Homo sapiens: one gene and its partners. The protein of the gene in region 2 purifies or fractionates together with the protein of the main gene of each other region. This does not show direct contact. Each region holds a gene or a part of one and is shown on either strand. Other genes may lie near its edges.

What was found.
Region 1: the proteins of BAZ2A (region 2) and CSTA purify together in Homo sapiens (affinity purification with mass spectrometry; one large-scale study listed by BioGRID and IntAct). This does not show direct contact.
Region 3: the proteins of BAZ2A (region 2) and BAZ1B fractionate together in Homo sapiens (co-fractionation; one study listed by IntAct). This does not show direct contact.

Annotation. Positions count from the first base shown.
Region 1 is NC_000003.12:122,338,659-122,342,306, reverse strand, and holds the end of CSTA (cystatin-A), read right to left. Parts: intron 869-3,648; coding exon 740-868; 3' UTR 338-739; downstream 1-337. UniProt on the Homo sapiens protein: This is an intracellular thiol proteinase inhibitor. Has an important role in desmosome-mediated cell-cell adhesion in the lower levels of the epidermis.
Region 2 is NC_000012.12:56,602,827-56,606,474, forward strand, and holds part of BAZ2A (bromodomain adjacent to zinc finger domain protein 2A), read right to left. Parts: intron 3,487-3,648; coding exon 3,421-3,486; intron 3,238-3,420; coding exon 3,004-3,237; intron 2,502-3,003; coding exon 2,247-2,501; intron 1,974-2,246; coding exon 1,759-1,973; intron 1,466-1,758; coding exon 1,391-1,465; intron 875-1,390; coding exon 694-874; intron 593-693; coding exon 533-592; intron 32-532; coding exon 1-31. UniProt on the Homo sapiens protein: Regulatory subunit of the ATP-dependent NoRC-1 and NoRC-5 ISWI chromatin remodeling complexes, which form ordered nucleosome arrays on chromatin and facilitate access to DNA during DNA-templated processes such as DNA replication, transcription, and repair.
Region 3 is NC_000007.14:73,442,226-73,445,873, reverse strand, and holds part of BAZ1B (tyrosine-protein kinase BAZ1B), read left to right. Parts: intron 1-1,744; coding exon 1,745-1,890; intron 1,891-3,045; coding exon 3,046-3,149; intron 3,150-3,320; coding exon 3,321-3,648. UniProt on the Homo sapiens protein: Atypical tyrosine-protein kinase that plays a central role in chromatin remodeling and acts as a transcription regulator. Involved in DNA damage response by phosphorylating 'Tyr-142' of histone H2AX (H2AXY142ph).

The DNA of each region.
Region 1 (3,648 bases), on a different chromosome or scaffold from region 2:
GACTGGGCAAGGTGGCTCACACCTGTAATCCCAGCACTTTGGGAAGCCAAGGCGAGCAGATCACCTAGGGTCAGGAGTTCGAAACCAGCCTGGCCAACATGGCAAAACCCTGTCTCTACTAAAAATACAAAAATTAGCTAGGCGCAGTGGTAGGTGCCTGTAATCCCAGCTACTTGGGAGGCTGAGATGGGAGAATCGCTTAAACCTGGGAGGTGGAGGTTGCAGTGAGCCGAGATCACACCATTGCACTCTAGCCTGGGTGACAGAACGAGACTCTGTCTCAAAAAAAAAAAAAAAAAAAAAGTATATATATACACACACACACACACACACACACTTTGTAAAATACTTGATTTAATTTTGAAGTATGAGGGTAGAGATGGAATGTTGGGTTATCAGCAGCCACAGGGAACAAGGAGGCTGGTGAATTGATAGTCCACGATCCAGCCTGCCTATGGTGGGGGTGAGGGTGGTACTATCCTTTAGCCAGTTGCATTAGGCTTGACTAGTTTTTATAAGATTTCCAATTGCCATCAATTTATATGGAGTTTATACTCTAAAGCAATAACACTGATTTTGAGAAAGAAAAGGTAATTTCTGCTTAATACAATAAATGAGAAATAATTGAAGAAATAATTTCTTTGGAAAAGAATGCTTCTTTATTGATGGTTATATTTATCAGCAAGGATCATGACTCAGTAGCCAGTTGAAGGAATCAGAACACTTTGGGTACATGCTGCTAAAAGCCCGTCAGCTCGTCATCCTTGTTTTTGTCAACCTGGTATCCAGTAAGTACCAAGTCCTCATTTTGTCCGGGAAGACTTTTGAATACTTTCAAGTGCATATATTTATTATCACCTGCTCGTACCTGAAAAATATTAAAGAAAGAGAAAGCAAAAGGAGATTCATTCAAATGGGTCTACATCAAGTGAGAGAGCCACAGGTCTACAAAGACTTCTGTCCAAAAAGCTGCTGAGGAACAGCATTGCTAGACCTAGTCCACCATTCTTAGACTCTTTGTATTCATAAATCCACCACCTTATTTTAGGAGAAAAAGAGCAGACTAGGCTGGGTGCCGTGGCTCCCACCTGTAATCCTAGCACTTTGGGAGGCTGAGGCAGGGGGATCACGAGGTCAGGAGTTCAAGACAAGCCTGGCCAGCATGGTGAAATCCCGTCTCTACTAAAAATACAAAAAATTAGCCGGGCATGGTGGTGCATGCCTGTAATCCCAGCTACTCTAGAGGCTGAGGCAGGAGAATCACTTGAACCCAGGAGGAGAAGGTTGCAGTGAGCCGAGATCATGCCACTGTACTCCAGCCTGGGTGATAGAGCAAGAGTTTGTCTTAAAAAAAAAAAAAAATTGTAGACTAATGGCATGGCAAGAGGCATAGGTCCTAGGTTTATTTTGTTATTTTTTTTAGTATAATCTGGGCACAAAGGACAGCATTTTATTTTCAAAGATGCATGGAGCAAGAAAACAAGTGATAGCCTATATTTTTGGTGATACTGTTTTCTGACTCTCAACTTGGGACACTTTGTTTGCCATACAGTCTGATAAGGGAGAAGAAAATCAGAATTGCCCTAGAAAATTTGGGATGCAGGGTTCCCATACCTATATCAGAACCTACTTTATAAACACCCACTGGTAGGATTGAGCAGAGCCCAGGGGGCGGACACCCTCCCTTCTAAAGTGAAGGGGCCAGCCGGGCACTGTGGCTCACGCCTATAATCCCAGCACTTTGGGAGGCCAAGGTGGGTGGATCACCTGAGGTCAGGAGTTTGAGACAAACCTGGCCAACATGGTGAAATCTGGTCTCTACTAAAAATACAAAATTAGCTGGGTGTGGTGGTGCACATCTGTAATCCCAGCTACTTGGGAGGCTGAAGCAGGAGAATCGCTTGAATCCGGGAGGTGGAGGTCGCAGAGAGCCGAGATTGTGCCACTGCACTCCAGCCTGAGTGACAGAGTGAAACTCCGTCTCAAAAAAGAAAAGAAAAAAAAAAGCTAAGGGGTTTTACTAGGAAGTCATTGGTAGGAAGGTTGAAGCAGAAGCAGTAGTTTGGACATGAATCTGAGACCTGGAAAATTATGGTAAGAATTTTTACTTTGGTTCTTGCTGGAGACAATAAATGCTTTGTCTTATACAAATATTTATTGTGCTTCTGATGTCACTTCCTATCCTAATTTTAACAAATGCCATATATCAAATGTTTACTGTGAGCCAGACACTATGATGAACATTTTATATAAATGATTATATTAACCTATATTATAGGCCTGAAGAAAAGTGGAGCAATGAAATTTTTACAGACGTGGAAGCAGAGTAGGAGAGATTAAGTGATTTTCCATAAATCTCTCAGCTAGTCAGTGGCACAGCCAATATTCAAACCCAGATCTGTTAGCCTCTAGCATCTACATTCTTTTCACTCTACAATGTAACATTTTTGGGGGGTACTGATCGGGGAATGAGGCCTGGCTCACAGTGCAGTGGTGCGATCGCAGCTCACTGCAACCTCAAACTCCTCGGCTCAAGTGATCCTCCTACCTCAGCTTCCCAAGTAGCTAGGACTACTGGTGTGCATCACCATGCCTAGGTAATTAAAACATTTTCTTTGTAGAGGCAGGGTCTTGCTATGTTGCCCAGAATGATCTCAAACTCCTGGCTTCAAGCTATCCTCCCACCTTGGCCTCCCAAAGTGTTCGGATTACAGGTATAAGCCACCACACCAGGCCAGTGTAACCTTGTAAAAGCTCTTATTTTGTGCTTTATATTAGAGGCAGCACAGCCAGTAGTTAAGCTCAGTCTATCTGGGTTCAAATCCTGACTCTGCTCTTGTAGTTGTGTGATCTTTTTAGTTTCTTCACCACCCTGGAACTCAGTTTTTTCGTTGGTAACCCAAGAGAAGTGATTGTACTTATCTCATAGATTTGTTGTGAGGATTAAATGAGATAAGCCCTGTTCTTAGAATAGTGCATAGTGAATTATAAGTGCTCAATAAATTTCCAGCTTATTTATTCCTCACAACACGCTGCGAAGTAGATTATTACCCTCATTGTGCAGATAAGGGAATGAAGGCTCAGAGAGGAGGAGGAGCTTCCCATAGAACAAATTGAACAAGGGTTCAAACCCAGGACACTCTGACACCTAAGCTTGTGGTCCTTCCATTCTACCACCTACCTCTTGATAGGTACTTGAAATACATAGAGAAGGTCACATCACTGGCAAGACCTTAAATCTAGAGTGCCTCAGAGCAAAGGGATCAACAGCCAGACTACCAGGAAGTAAAAGGGAACTGGGATCGGTGGCTGAGATCCAGTAGGAAAAGTTTGATAGCAGAAGGAAGAAAAGATGAGAGAGAGAGAGGAGACTGATTAAGAGAGGGCAAAAGGGTGGTCAAGGGAACAAATTTTCAAGCAGAAATTTTCAAGATAGTTATCTGATGAACTGTTGAAGAAACATGTGAGCTGGTAATATGTGAAATTTATGCATTTGAATTAATCATAAATTATTAAATATGTTAATGTTGATGGAATGTTTCCTATCTTTGCACATAATCATTTTTAACTGGAAAACTTTCTTTTCCAGCCATGAAGAAAGCAGATTGAGAATGGAGGAAATGGTGCCATTGTTTTCTGAGGATACAG
Region 2 (3,648 bases):
GAAGCAGCTTTTTGCGAAAGAAAAGCTGACGCTGGGTAGACAATGAAAATGAAGATGAATAAACACATTTCCAGAGTGACAGTGGTGAATTCATCCAGTATATCAGAGAAAGGCAATGGCTCTCAGTCCCTCTATAAAAGTGATGCCATCTGGGCCTAATTCAGAAGGTGATTAAGTTTGGGAGCGGTGGCTCACGCCTGTAATCCCAGCACTTTGGGAGGCCAAGGCAGGTGGATTGCTAGAGCCCAGGAGTTCAGAACCAGCCTTGGTAACATATGGAAACTGTCTCTACAAAAACACAAAAATTAGCCAGGCATGGTGGCTCCTGCCTGTAGTCCCAGCTACTTGGGAGAATCACCTAAGCCCAGGAGGCTGAGGCTGCAGTGAGCCATGATCGTGCCACTGCACTCCAGCCTGGGTAACAGAAACCCCATCTCAAAAGAATAAAAATTAAAATTCAGTTTAAAAAAGAAGCTGATCAATTCTTGCCCAGCCCATATCTCCAACTCTTGGGAGGTTAGAAGCACAATACCTTGCTGAGTTTTTCTATCTGGCGCTCTAGCTCTGGGATGCTAGATGCTGTGGCATCAACCTAGGGAGAAACACATGGGCATTATGAAAAAGGAGGTTATCAGATTCAAGAAAGAGGAATTTATTTTCTAACTCCCACTTTCCTTGATCTTGGGCCAGTACCTCTCCATCTCTTCGACCCCTGCGGCCAGGGACAGCTGCTATAGACTCCTCTTCTTCCTCTTCTTCCATGCCACTGGTCTCCTCCATGATCCGAGAACTGCGCCTCCGTCCCAGGCATTCCTCTGGCCCTTCCATCTCTACTTCAGACCGCCCAGTTCGCTTGGCCAGAACAGTTTTCAGCCTTGAAATAGATGGAGAAAGATTAAGGGAAGGCCAAGTGTGGTGGCTCACACCTGTAATTCCAGCACTTTGGGAGGCCAAGACAGGCGGATCACCTGAGGTCAGGAGTTCGAGACCAGCCTGGCCAACATGGTGAAACCCTGTCTCTACTAAAAATACAAAAATCAGCCAGGTGTGGTGGCATGGGCCTGTAATCCCAGCTACTTGGGAGGCTGAGGCAGAAGAATCGCTTGAACCTGGGAGGCGGAGGTGGCAGTGAGCCAAGATTGCGCTATCGCATTCCAGCCTAGGCGACAGAGGAAGACTCCATCTCAAAAAAAAAAAATTACGGGAAACTGGTGAGGAACATGATAGTGCCACAAAAGAAATACCTTGACTCTAAACCATCCTGGGCCCTGGTAAGGTCCCAAACCCAGGGAAGGGGCTAAAGCATCACATTTCAAGCCAAAACCCTGGCTATGCTTCACCCGCCCCACTTCTCTCCTCTCTGAGGCTCTACTCTCTGTCTGGTCCCTACCTCCGGAGCCGGCCTTCAACAATCCACTTGTTTTTCCTGTAGCTGGACATACTCTCCAGAGTCTTGTCAATCTCACTGCAGGGGAATAGGGAATAGGATGAAGTGGCAGCACAAAAAAAGGGAAAGGAGGCTCAAGGGTAAAGGGGCTGCAGCTGAAAAAGGAGTTCCAGCCTAGAACCCAGATTGGGTGAATGGCAGAAGGCTTAGGCTCTCCCAGGGAGGGCACTGCAATTCAGTCCCAAGTCATTCCAGCATCTTCAGAACATGGCAGTGAACACACATTTCTGAGGACTTCTGGAAGGCTACAAGTCCTCCACCCCATTCTGATGCAAGGGATACAATGACCATCCCCACTCCCAGCCTCTCACTTGATGATGAGGGTGGAGCCATTGAGCTCATGCACAAGGAAGGCCAGGACAGCAGCCTTCTGCTGGGGTGGCTGGGCCTGAAAAGGCTGGGTGCGCAGGCGGTCACAGAGGGCTGGCTCTACTCCATATGCCATAAGGAAGCAGCGCAGGATCTCTGACACATTGTCTCTTGTCAGTGGGATCTCAGACACCTTCTCCCCCAAGATCTTTAGGGACTGTGTGGAGGACAGCATAATGGGGGTGAGTAGGGAAAGATGCACAACCAAGTTGGGTGAATGTGCAAGAGGAAAATACATCAGAAGAGAACTATGGGGGTTAAGACAGAATACGAAAGAAGACCACAAAAGAAAAGGAAAAAATAAAGAAAAATAAAATAAGGAGAGGAGTCAGGAAGAAAAAGAAATGGAAAAATATAAGGAAAAGAGAAACACTAAGTAGTTACATCTCCTTTACTTGTCCTGGTTACTTTGGGAGGGACTTGCACTCACCTGACAGTAGGAGGGAAAGCCAGGATCATGGAGTGCAGCCTTCAGCAGCCTGACCAGCAGGTCTTGCACCTCACCCAAGCTGTCACCTTGACACAGGAGTCCCTCCTGCAGGACCCCCAGGCTAGGCACATCTTTGGCAGGATCAAAGCCCAGCACCTTGCCAAAGCTATGCAGGAACTCCACAATGGTCAAGCAGTCTGAGAAGGCTCCACTGGGCAATGTCAGACCAGGGACTCGTGAGAAGTCAGGCAGGGGCTAGAGAGAGAAAAGTGAGTAGAGAGTTCTGTTAAACATAACAGAAGATGACAATTTGCATGTCTACAAGAGGTTCTTCCTTTAATTTTTATGTAATTTTTTTTTTTTTTTTGAGATAGGGTCTCACTCTGTCACCCAAGCTGGAGTGCAGTGGCATGATCTCTGCTTACTGCAGCCTCGACCTCCTAAGCCCAAGCAATTCTCCCACCTCAGTCTCTCAAATAGCTGGGACTACAGGTACATGCCACCACACCCAGCTAATTTTCGTATTTTTTGTAGAGATGAGGTCTCGCCATGTTGCCCAGGCTGGTCTTGAACTGCTGGGCTCAAGCGATCTGCCCGCCTCGGCCTCCCAAAGTGCTGGGATTACAGTGTGAGCCATGGCACCCGGCCTTCCTTTAATCTTTAATGGAAATGTCTCTCCCATTGCAGAAGTCCTTTTTTTTTTTTTAAAGGAAAGTCTTCCCAGCTGACCCAGGAACTGTTACTCTCTCCTCACTACCTGGTGGTCAGTCAGACACATATCCTCTGTCGGCTTCTTCATTTCCTCCAAGATCATCTGCTGCCTCTGCCGTTCCTCCAAGCGCCTCTGTGTGGCCAGGGTCTTATCTGCTTTACAGGCTGGCTTGGCTTTGGTCACCTCCTCCTTTTCCTTCATTTTTACCTTCTCCTTCTTTTCCCTCTTGACTTTTTCCTTCAGTTTTTCCTGCTTTGTCTTTCCTTTTTCTTTCTCAGCCTACCCAAGGAAGAGAGGAACCAAGACTGCCATAAAGATATCAGTCACTATCCTTCCCTGGTCCCAGTCCTCCCAACCTCACAGCCCAGAAATCTCACTATAAAACAAGACTGATGTACATGTCCTGCAAAATCAGTTTAGTGGCTTCGAAATTATACTTGGCAAGTTTGTACATGCACCTACCTTGGATTTCTTCTTAGCTTCCTTCTGCTTTAAGCTCTTGGTCTCTTGTTTCCGCTTATTTCTGGCCTGTAAACCATAAGGGAAGTCATTTCTCCTCAAACTCTGAAAGCATCTCTGCTTGGGCTAGGATTCAAAAACAGACAAGGGTGCTGGGGAGGAGAGGTGAGAGATGGAATGAGGGGTTGGCAATGGATTAATTCTCTCACCCTAGAGATGCCCACGTTATTT
Region 3 (3,648 bases), on a different chromosome or scaffold from region 2:
TTGGCGGAGCGGGGGATGGGTATCTTTCTCTGTTGCCCAGGCTAGAGTGCACTGGTATGATCACTGCTCACTGTATCCTCGATCTCTCAGGCTTAAGCAATCCTCCTTACCTCAGCCTCCTGAGCAGCTGGGACTACAGGCACGTGCCACCATGCCCGGCTTTTTTGTAGAGATAGGGTCTTGCCATGTTTCCCAGGCTGGTCTTGAACTCTTGGGTTCAAGTGATCCTCCTGCCTTGGCCTCCCGAAGTGCTGGGATTACAAGTGTGAGCCACTGCGCCTGATCTCTCTGAGGGCAGATCCTGAATATGGTAGTATACTGATTCTGTTTATTTGTAAGCTAGTGATTGCTTTCCACTTCTACGTTGTAGCTCTCTTTCCAAGGAATTGCTTTTCTAAGTTTTTACGGCCTCGACTTGCCAAAAGGATCTGGGAAGTATTTGGTACTTCAGAGCTTTTTGTCAACTCTATCTTTCAGACCACCAAAGATGTGGTTCCCCAGTGCAGCTCAAGGTTCTAGCACCTAAGCATCAGATTCTTACCCTTTCTTACTAGCCTGGGCTTGAGCTAGAGACGCTAAAGTAGCCAAGAAAGGGTTATCGTGATCCAGAAATAGAATGGAAAGTAGTGTTTCTGGATTATTCGTGTCACTGCCTTCCTAGACCTCTGTGTCCAGTGTCATCTCCCCACTCCCCAAGGGAAGGTGGTGGAGAGCCTGGAGCTAAATCCTCATGGCATTGTTTCCCAGGGCTCACTGAGGAATGCCAGTTGGCTTGATGGTGAGCACCTGTTGTAAACCTGAGACACAAGTAGTCTCAGTGCCTTTGTGTGTGTGTGTGTGTGTGTTTTTTTTCTTTTGTGAGATGGAGTTACACCCTTGTTTCCCAGGCTGGAGTGCAGTGGCGTGATCTCGGCTCACTGCAACCTCCGCCTCCCAGGTTCAAGCGATTTTCCTGCCTCAGCCTCCTGAGTAGCTGGGATTACCAGCATGTGCCACCACGCCCTGCTAATTTTGTATTTTTAGTAGAGACGGGGTTTCACCATGTTGGTCAGGCTGGTCTTGAACTCCCGACCTCAGGTGATCCACCTGCCTCAGCCTCCTAAAGTGGTGGGATTACATGTGTGAGCCACAACGCCCGGCCTATATTCTTTATTCTCTCATTGGGGATCCTGGGCAGGGCTCTTATGGAGGGGACTAGCCCTAAATTGTATTTAATGAGGAGCCTTGTGGCCCTTCATGGAAGTACCAGCTTTTCTCTGGAAAGATTCTGATGGTAAGTGTAGAATAACTCTGGGAATTACAACATAGGGTTTGTTTTACAATCCAGTTCCATCTTACATGTAAATACATCCACTCGCTCAGGCTGAGCTTGGGCTGTGGGAAATCCAGGCTGACCTATTAGCAAATGGCTTCTCATGAGTGAGAGTTTACAGTTGATTCCTGCAGGGGCCTTATGGCTGGGAGTAACTGCAGGACGGGGCAGGACAGAAGTACTGAAGGACCTAGCCCTCTGAAGGGCTTTGGCAGTGGATGAAAGGCACCCATTCTTCATCGGCTGCCACTGCCTTTTAGTGTCCTGTTAGGTAAGGCAAGATAAAATAGCAAGAGCACCTTAAAACCAAAGGAGGCCACTGCTTTCCTTGTCCAGGAAAAGGATTCTCCCTGCATCCCTTTCCCCCATTTCGAAGATGCTCCTCCCTTCACCTTCCGTTGTTCTCTGCTGAATCCATAGTTTTTCTTTCAGTGAGACCTCGAAAGACCATCCGGGGCAAGCACAGCGTCATCCCCCCTGCAGCAAGGTCAGGCCGGCGCCCGGGTAAGAAGCCACACTCTACCAGGAGGTCTCAGCCCAAGGCACCACCTGTGGATGATGCTGAGGTGGATGAGCTGGTGAGAATTATTTATCATCCCTTCTCTAACCTTTCTGTTTCTTATTCCCTACCCCAGCAATTAGGAATTCATCAGGCAACAGGTGGGAGGGGAGCCTCCCCCCTCCTCCTTCTTACCAAACTTGGGAGGCTGGGGAGGCAGATGGGTGAGCCTGTACGCAGACAGAAGCAGCAAGGCCTCCAGGAACAGCTATGTCCGGCATTCCCCTGCTGTAGCCTGCAAACTAGTTAGCGGGCAGCCTGCAACTTATTAAGGATTTAAAAATAGTATCCATGTGTCTCCAGTGGGCTCAGAGGGGCTGGGTCTTCATTGTGGGAATGTCAGCAATGCTGGAGCCTCACTTACTGTTGAGTCGACAGTTGTTATGGGAGGGACATTACCCTCCCCTCTGCTCCTTAACCAATGTAATTTTAGTAGTTTTTAGATCTCACTTGAGCTTTAAAGAACAAAAAAGAAACTCTTGAAAAGGTGCTTGTTTTGACAGATCAAATTGGAGTTAGGGGCTTAAGGCAGGCCATTTGGGAGATCATAAGGCATTAGAAGATGCTCGGTTTGCCACAGCCTTGGGCTCTGTGGCCTCTGCTGTGAATCACAGCTTTTGTTATGGCTACCTGGAATGGAGGCCCCGCCCCTTTTCTCTTTAGCCACTTAACCCTCACATGTCTACGGTGGAAGAGCCCAGGAAGGGAATTGGACCTCTTGCTTTTCTTACCAGAGGCACCCCACCCCCACAGAATTGGCTGCTGTTGGCCCAGATAGCATGTTTTGCTTTCTGCAGTGGCTTGTTGATGCCCTTCCATGGTGTCACTGTAACCCCAGGTCCACCTGTTCTCTGAGAGCTAGTGTCCTGTTGACAGTAGCCCCCTTCAGCCGACCTCCAGCAGGACTGCTGGTAAAGGCGGCCCCCGCTGCCTGCTCTTTGCTGCTTTGATTGCCGTGGCCCCGGGGGAGGCGAGTGAGTGGACTACTGGGAAGATGCCTGCCACCTGGGCCGAGGGTGCTCCCTGACTTGAATATCAGAAGGTTTCAGCACCTCTGCGCCAAGGAAATAGTTGAACTCTCTTCCTTTTTTGAGCAGATACACTTATTTTCTGCCCTGTCCATTCTTCCTCCTGTCTTGAATCTGTAATAACATTGTTCTTTCTTTCCTGCCAGGTGCTTCAGACCAAGCGGAGCTCCCGGAGGCAAAGCCTGGAGCTGCAGAAGTGTGAAGAGATCCTCCACAAGATCGTGAAGTACCGCTTCAGCTGGCCCTTCAGGTGAGTGCTGTGTTCTCAGGTGCAGGGGAGAGGAGTGGCCTGGCTGGTTCTAAAAGCTTCCAGAGCCCCTGAGGGGCTCTCAGCCAAGCCCTTGCTTTTCAGGACGTGTCTCAGTGGCAGGGGCACTGCCGTCAAGGCTGTGCAGATTCTCCATTTGGTTCTTCTCCACAGGGAGCCTGTGACCAGAGATGAGGCCGAGGACTACTATGATGTGATCACGCACCCCATGGACTTTCAGACAGTGCAGAACAAATGTTCCTGTGGGAGCTACCGCTCTGTGCAGGAGTTTCTTACTGACATGAAGCAAGTGTTTACCAATGCTGAGGTTTACAACTGCCGTGGCAGCCATGTGCTAAGCTGCATGGTGAAGACAGAACAGTGTCTAGTGGCTCTGTTGCATAAACACCTTCCTGGCCACCCATATGTCCGCAGGAAGCGCAAGAAGTTTCCTGATAGGCTTGCTGAAGATGAAGGGGACAGTGAGCCAGAGGCCGTTGGA